3 separate regions of the Homo sapiens genome follow, and all the other regions are linked to region 1. Evidence: fine-mapped expression QTL. A gene starts in region 1. Each other region holds a variant in brackets. All regions are shown on one strand. Distances are between the middles of the regions.

Region 1 (2,761 bases):
CAGCTATACATGTCAAGAACGCTAAGGGCTATCTCCAGTCTCTTTTTTCATTCCTTGACCAAAGAGAGCCCTGTTTGGAGACAGGCTCACGTGCAAAGAATGTGAAGTTAATGAGACAGGTGGGAGAAGGCGGCTAGTGTTCAATTCCAAGCCCCTGTGCTCTATTCCTCCTGGCAAAATAGTGAGGTTGGCGGGACAGGGGGAGGGGAATGTCTGTGATCCCACAAAAAAATGTGTGGGAAGTGAGAGGGAGATGGTGAGGAAAGAGAGCATGTTCCAGACGCTACAGGACAGACCTGGACCTGACCTCTCCCTGGCGGGCATGGCACCAGGAGTTTATTATGAGACCGAAAGGAAACCCCAAGGCAAACAGCTAAATTCATCCACTTGAAACCTTGTATAGGAGACAGTGAGGGATGTTGTTTTCCATCTAGACAAGGCACAGAGGGGAGTCTGTGACAAGGAGCTTCTAATTGGGGAGCTGCAGAGGGTTAACAAAGAGCACTGGTGGCATCTTTTTGCTGGTCTTCTTGAAAAAGACATAGTCTGGGAAGGTTCAATCAGAGCCCCCTGCACGAGGTAAGGAGGTGGGCTGGCTGACTTCCCTAGGTCCTTCCTAATCCCATAGTTATTTGGTGAATCGTGCTCTTCCCCATTTATGCTCCTACACACGTCTGCACCCAGTTTGATAGTAAGTCCCCTAGGCTGCATTCCAGGTTTAGTACGGTGCCACGCAAGCTGCTGGCACTCAACAAATGACGCAAATATTTGTTGAATGAAGGAATAAATGGATCAAGTGTTTAAATAGAGCCCACATGACCTCCCCAGCTGTAAAGTATGGCAGTTGAATGAAATCACAACATTCTAGGCACTTGAGCAAAGCTGGCGGGGACACACACACACACACGATTCACATTCCCACCTTGGAAAAGCACAGACCACCTGCCCAGCCAGCAGGCTGTGGGAGTTTCCTTGGCAAGGATCCTCTTTCTCTGCTGCTTTAGGATGGTGCCTCTAGAAGGTCAAGTCACCCAGATTTAGGACCGCTTCCCTTCCCGGTTGGCCTCCGAGACAAAGTTTCTGTCTGGATTTGGCCCGGGCCTCCCGGGAGGCGCATCCGCACTGACTCCCGGCTCGGGCGCCCCGGGCGTGCAGCTCGCTGGCCCGCTGCGCCCCACCTTACCTTGGTGAGCTGGGCGATCTTCTTGCACATTTTCACGTGCATCTGGGGATCACAGTCCATTCTCCAGCCGGCGCCACCGTCGGCTTTGGAGCCCTGGCAAGTGCCGGGCGGGTTAATTTTGCTGTTGAGAGCAGAAGCCATCGCTAAAACGCGCCCAGCACTCAGACTCTCTCGTTTTCTCCCTGCCCACCGTGTGCACGTGCGTGCGCGCGCGGGCGTGCGAGCGTGTGGGTTTCTCGGGAGAGGTGGCACTGCAGTCCCGTCGCCTGCACCGCCGCGTGGCCCCAGCTTCCCGAAGGTCTCCGCCTCCCGGGCCCACCCGCGCGCCCACCCTTTTTCCTCTCCTGCTGGTTCTCTGGCTGGCTGGCTCCGCGGGCACCCGCACCCTGCGGCGAGGCGTCGGCGCCCCGCACGTGCCGCTGGCGATCAGTCTGCAGTTCCCCAGCCAGTGCAGGTTTCGTGTGCAAGGGGAGAGCTTCCGCGGCTAGGAGCTGCCGGCCTTGGGGGGTTTGCGGTGGGCGGGCACTGCGCTCTTGGACACGTGGGTGGCGCGCGGCCCTGGACTTGGTGGCGACGGACCCTGCCCGAGGTGGGGATCCCAGGCTAAAGAGGAAGAAGAGCCTCCGGAGAGGGACAGGGCACAGTGACTGGCGGCCTCCGGAGAGGGACAGGGCACAGTGACTGGCGGCTCCCGAGTCTCCGAGCTGATAGCGGAGATGGCGGTGGGGGACGAGATGCTAAGAGAGGGGCGGGTAGGTGAGGGCGAGCCATCGGGACTCAAGGAGGTGTGGGATCCGGGGCGCACGGTGTGGGCCAGCGCCTGAGTTGCGCGAGTGCACAGCGGGGCTGGGGATGGTAGCCTTCCTTTTTGGATCTTGGAGAGGAGCCAGGACATTGCGGGAGGAATACCGGAGATGCCCAAAGAGGAGAAGCCAAGGGGATGGCAGGGTGCGGGTGACCGAAATCTGAGATGAGAAAGTGCGAAACGGGTAATGCGGGAAGCGGTAGGAACGCAAAGACAAAGTCGTTAGGGAGGTAGAAAGGATGGTGGCAGGTGCGGGAAAGGAAGAAGCAAAGAGGAATGGAGCAGTTAGATGAGTAAAAGATGGAACTGAAAATCTTAGCAAACCGAGCCCATTGAAAGTAAAGTGAGTCGTCCAAATCCACACTACTGGCCTTGGGCAGACTGGAGCCAGACTGTCAAGTTTTCGGATTCTGAGCTGGTGTCTGTTTAGTGTTTGGTGAGGGGAGAGGTTAGCGGGCCAAATTTCTTTCTGGCGTGTTCTCTGGTTTCAGACAGTGGACTTTAAGGGAAAGTGACAGCACCGTGATCAGCTTTTCCTAAAGCTCGAATAATAGGTCTTCATGATAGTTTGCATAGTGAATGTATATCATTTATACATTGCCTTTTATCAGAAATTTTAATAATCTTCATAAACCAAGCAAGCTTCAAAGGGTCTCAGAAACCACAGTTCCACCCATCCATACTGAAGGTAACAAAACCCATTTTTGTCGATGAGGAAAATTGACCCAGAAAATTTGTACCAAGTCAGGCAATTACAAGTAGAACTGTTTCTG
Region 2 (2,761 bases), 140 kb before region 1:
GGGGCAGACAAGGCAGAAAGGGCCAGAGATGTGCTGCGGCGAGATGGAGACCCACTGGCACCCCGCCCAGGCTGGAGCCTGTGGCAGGCTCCTGAGTTCCCTGCAGGGACTCCCATCTAGTCTCTTAAAAAATTTCCTCCTTTGGGAGTTGGCCAAATCTGGCCCTTAGAGTTTAATAAAACTGCTGAGCTAAGAATGGGTCTTGCATCCAAATGAACACCAACCACACTCCACACTCCACCTGCCAGGGTGCCCTCCATGCCTGCCTCAGTGAAGTCTTCCCTCCGTGAAGTTAAGTGTTCAGTGAAGTGATACTGCCTCAGTGAAGTCTTCCCTACCTCTCAGGGGGAACTGATAAGCTTTCTCTAATACCACCAAATCTTGCTAACTCTGGCTCTGTAAGGGGTGACACTGAAGAGAATATGTGTCCATGCTGGTTTCCTTGGCTAGATTGGGAGCTATTCCTCTCTTCATCTTTCCAACCCTGTAGCACCTAGCCTGGTGTATTCTATAGGTGCCACGTGAATGCTTGCTAAACAGAATTGTGCTAGAATGTCTGTAGTTCAGGTAGAAACACAAAAATTGCTGTCCAACAGCAAATGGAGTCAGATTTAATCTGTGATTAGTGAATGTTCCAGTTTTCAAATTCACTCAAACATGCCCGACCACTTGTGCATGTATTAGTTCACTGCACACAGTAATTGCACAGCTGTGCACGGGGAGAATCTGTGGCCCAGGCCCCATGTCTCTGCCTTCCTGCTCTGGGGTTGGCATGATGTGGGATGCCCGTGGGCACCCACTTGGCACTCTCACATGCATAGCCTGGAAGAGCAAGAGCAGGGGGGTTACTGCTCTGTGGGGACAATCCTTGACCAATGGAGGACAGAAACAGATGGAAAAATGCATTCCCCTCTTGGGTCTCTGGGTGGGAGAGATATGAGAATTAGATCCCAGTAGGACAGACTCCACTTAGCTCAGCGGTGGCCAGCTTGGGCCTGCAGCCTGGCATTGTGTCCCCTCCCCTTTCCTTTTTGACTCCTGCTGCCTGGGCTGTTCCTCTTTGCCGACACCCCTGCATCTCCTCTCTGTGTGGGGTATCACCTGAGACCACACTTTCCTTCTAGAGGGTTCAGGGCTTCCCTCCTATGGGGCAAAGGTGAGGGCTGGTGCATGGGTGGCCACGTATCGGCTCATGTACTCAGTGCTCCTTGGCTTCTATCCAGAGCCCTCAGGTGAACACTGACTCCCTCCATGGCCCAGTCCCCAGCTGTCTCCATCCCACATTTCCCGTCCCCTCCCATTGGTACCAGTGGCTCCCACCCATCTAAACACTTAATGGAACAC[G/A]TTCTGTCTTCCCTCTGCTAGACCTAACCACTGGGCTAACCTGTGATTCATCATTTGTTAATATTTTTCACATAAACACAGAAATTGCCTTCCTATGCTCAGCAACAGCTAAATCTGGCACACATGATTCCCATGTCCCCCGGTCCTTCAGCAGGACTGGCCACCAATGAATCCTCACCACCCACAGGCACTGGTGGAGACCCTGCTGAGGGCTGGGAGTGGGGGTGGGGAGGCGATGAGGCAGGCAGACAGGTTATCCTCAAAAGACTCCTGATCCAGTCTAGGCAACAAGGACATCTATGAAATGGCATGTCCCCAACAGGACCGGGCGGTAGATCCTAGAGCCAGCTGAGCTGTCTTGACAACAAGTGCTCCAGGATCTCAGAGCCAGAGGGGGCCACTGTGTGCCAGGGAAGGCCCCCAGCATGAGATATGCTGGGCAGCATCTCAGGCAGGAGGAGTGGCACAGGCGAAGGCCAAAGGGAGGGTGCAGATGCCGGGTTTATGAGCCGCAGGGAATATGGCAGGACATACAGGTCATAATCAGTGGTGGAAGCTTTTCAATGCCAAGTTGAAGCATTTGGAGCTTTCTCCAATGGGAACCACCAAAGGCTTTATGAAAAGTGATGCTGGTCATCCTAATACCAAAGCCTGGCAGAGACACAACAAAAAAAGAGAACTTTAGACCAATATCCCTGATGAACATTGATGTAAAAATCCTCAATAAAAGACTGGCAAACCAAATCCAGCAGCACATCAAAAAGCTTATCCACCATGATCAAGTGGGCTTCATCCCTGGGATGCAAGGCTGGTTCAATATACACAAATCAATAAACATAATCCAGCATATAAACAGAACCAACGACAAAAACCACATGATTATCTCAATAGATGCAGAAAAGGCCTTTGACAAAATTCAACAGCCCTTCATGCTAAAAACTCTCAATAAATTAGGTATTGATGAGATGTATCTCAAAATAATAAGAGCTATTTATGACAAACCCACAGCCAATATCATATACTGAATGGGCAAAAACTGGAAGCATTCCCTTTGAAAACTGGGACAAGATAGGGATGCCCTCTCTCACCACTCCTATTCAACATAGTGTTGGAAGTTCTGGCCACGGTAATCAGGCAGGAGAAAGAAGGGGTATTCAATTAGGAAAAGAGGAAGTCAAATTGTCCCTGTTTGCAGACGACATGATTGTATATCTAGAAAACCCCATTGTCTCAGCCCAAAACCTCCTTAAGCTGATAAGCAACTTCAGCAAAGTCTCAGGATACAAAATCAATGTGCAAAAATCACAAGCATTCTTATACACCAATAACAGACAAACAGAGAGCCAAATCATGAGTGAACTCCCATTCACAATTGCTTCAAAGAGAATAAAATACCTAGGAATCCAACTTACAAGGG
Region 3 (2,761 bases), 150 kb before region 1:
TTCTGGAGATGGATGTGTTTTGCAACTCAATTTTGTTTAAGATTTTAGAAGGTCATGTAACACCCCCAGCAGGGGATGGGCCCACCCTAGCCTCAAATGCATTTATTTAAATTTCTGGAGTGAAACTTGTATTTTGTCACAATGAGGGATACATAAAAACTACACGAGATGACATTAGTTAAGTCACAAGTGTATTGTCCTGTGAACTATTTTTAAAAATACTATTTTTGTTTTTAAGATGTAGCCTTGCTCTGTCACCCAAGCTGGAGTACGGTGGTGCGATCTCAGCTCACTGCAACCTCCGCCTCCTGGGTTCAAGTGATTCTCCTACCTCGGCCTCCTGAGTAGCTGGGATTACAGGCATCTGCCACCAAGCCCAGCTAATTTTTGTATTTTTAATAGAGTTGGAGTTTCACCACGTTGGCCAGGCTGGTCTTGAAATCCTGACCTCAAGTGATCCACCCACCTCGGCCTCCCAAAGTGCTGGGATTACAGGTGTGAGCCATTGCACCCAGCCAAAAATACTATTTTTTAAGAGCCTTTAGGATTTTGTGATAGTAGATAATTGAATGTGAATATGCTCATTGTGAAAAATTCCAAAAATATGTACAGAAATAGTTAAGAAGTGGAAGATTCTTACTCTTCTCCCTCCCATCACCTAGATAGAGCTATTCTTAATACTGACACACATTTATTCTAGAAAATTTGGAAAATACAAAATCCCATAAAAAATAAAAATCACACATAATCCGCCCAGCCATAGATATAAACAAGTGGGTTTTTTTTTTCCAATGAATATTTTTCTGAGCGTACACCAGCCCTTAAATAACCTGTGGTTACCTTTAAGAAAAACGAAACCAATGGAATTGTATAATGCATTAAAACCATTAGAACCAATTTACCTTCATGGAAGGGGTCAAATATCCCGGGTGAGGATTGAAAGAGAAAGACCGATTCCGGTGGGACATGGCACTGGGGAATGCTGCGTAGTGAAATCTTCTCTCTTCCTAGAAAACCAATACAACTGAGTCTAAATGAGCCTAACCACACAGCACTGGGTTTGACTTGAAGGAAGATGGCTGTGAGGGCAGAATAGAGAAGGAAAGTCCAGGGGAGGAAGGGGAAGTCAGTGGGAATAAAGCTGCCAGGCACTGAAGCTTTTGAGGAAGCACCTTTGCTTTTTTTATGTCCCCAGCCCCTCTTGTAAAGAAAAGGGCAAGCTGATGCCTTAGGAAATTGAAAATTCAACTGTTCTTAGCATGTGAAGGTAACCTAATGCAGAAAGTTAGTAATTAAGGCAAAGAAAGAAAACCCCCAGGTATGCAAAGGATTTTGCCGCCTTTCTTCCTCTGTCTTGTTTGACATTTGTGTTGCCTAACATATACAAACATAGGGAGAGTAATGAAATCCATCCCCACTTTACCTATAATAACTATATGGCCGATCTTGTTTGTGTGTATCATTTTCCACTTTTTTCTCT[C/G]CTGCTGTATTATTACTAAATTCCAGTTATTACATAATTTTTCTCTGTAAAAACATCAGTATGTATTTCTTAGAAATAAGGATTACTTTAAAAAAAAAAAAACCCATGATACCTTTGTTCACACGTAGCAAATGAGCAATAATTCCATATCAATGTCACCTAATTTTCAAAGCACAGAGAGATACAGAAGTGAGGCAGGTGAGCAGGAGCAGAAATGACCAGCAGGCCTTGGTTGGATACTGAATCAGAGGGAGCTGGGTTCTTTCCAAGGGGCTTAGGGAGTGGCTTTGCTAAGTAGAAAACAGGTGGTCATTTTTACAAAAAGAAGATCAACAATAAAAACACTAATTCTACTACAATTCAAACCTAAGCCATTATAGATTTTCTCAAATTCTGTAAGTTAAAAAACCAATATTAACATGGGGCAAATGCTGTTGGACTTGGGAGTAAAGTGATTTTTTTTTGCCTCCTATTTTCCTGTATTAATTTTTTAGTGAGTATGTCTTCTTTAATAATAGAAAAGAAAGGAGTTTTTCTTTGAGACAGTCTTGCTCTGTCGCCCAGACTGGAGTGCAGTGGCGCTATGCTGGCTCACTGCAACCTCTGTCTCTCGGGTTCAAGTGATTCTCCTGCCTCAGCCTTCCTAGAAGCTGGAATTACAGATGCCCACAACCACACCCAGCTAATTTTTGTATTTTTAGTAGAGACAGGGTTTCAACATGGCTAGGCTGGTCCCGAACTCCTGACCTCAAGTGATCCACCCGCCTCCGCCTCCCAAAGTGCTGGGATTACAGGCTTGAGCCACCGCGCACGGCAAGAAAGGATTCTTTGTAAGATATTAGGGCACCTAGAGAAATGCTGGGTGCAAGTGAACGCCCCTCCCGGGGGAGCCCGCAGTGCCCGGCCAGGTGCGTGGGTGAGGCGCCCCCTGACAGCCTCACCGTGAGCTGCTTGATGATGTCCTCTCTCTCCTTCAGGCGGGTCTGCAGGCGGCCAATGAGCTGAAGGTCCTCGGGCCTGGACGCTCCCTTCCCTGGCTTCTCTCCGGAATCTTTCAGTCTGTTCCAAGCAGGCATGCAGTCAAGTCCCCCTTACAGCAATTACTCAACAAAGAGGGAGAACAAGTGCACACGATGGGAATGCCATCCTGTGTTCAGCCCGGCCAGGGAGGCCCAGATAGCAGCAGCGGCTTGCCCAGGGCCCCCTGGGGAGATGGCTTGCCGAACCCAGGATTCCAGCTCTGTCAGGTCCCCTGAGGCTGCAGGGCCAGGAAGCAAAGGC

Alleles and levels. Positions count from the first base shown, and alleles are read on the strand shown. Sizes are in standard deviations (SD) of each study's normalised expression.
For the expression in ovary of the gene that starts at base 1,646 in region 1, allele G in region 2 goes with a lower level than allele A (moderate effect, 0.53 SD a copy in GTEx).
For the expression in putamen of the gene that starts at base 1,646 in region 1, allele G in region 3 goes with a higher level than allele C (moderate effect, 0.53 SD a copy in GTEx).

Evidence for each region. PIP is the estimated chance that this variant, and not a neighbour inherited with it, causes the effect.
Region 2: its variant is fine-mapped to the expression of FAM184B in ovary (GTEx, PIP 0.92).
Region 3: its variant is fine-mapped to the expression of FAM184B in putamen (GTEx, PIP 0.98).

The regions. Positions count from the first base shown.
Region 1 is chr4:17,779,976-17,782,736 of GRCh38, forward strand. It overlaps FAM184B (family with sequence similarity 184 member B), which reads right to left and starts at 1,646. Exons shown (of 18, transcript NM_015688.2): 1 at 1,184-1,646. The coding sequence starts at 1,324.
Region 2 is chr4:17,642,269-17,645,029 of GRCh38, forward strand. All of the region lies in intron 12 of FAM184B (family with sequence similarity 184 member B), which reads right to left. Among named protein-coding and RNA genes, the nearest start is that of MED28, 29 kb to the left of the region's middle. The variant G/A (reference allele first, on the strand shown) is at 1,345.
Region 3 is chr4:17,634,107-17,636,867 of GRCh38, forward strand. It overlaps FAM184B (family with sequence similarity 184 member B), which reads right to left. Exons shown (of 18, transcript NM_015688.2): 15 at 2,422-2,539; 16 at 903-1,007. Among named protein-coding and RNA genes, the nearest start is that of MED28, 21 kb to the left of the region's middle. RefSeq lists a silencer at 2,682-2,761. The variant C/G (reference allele first, on the strand shown) is at 1,481.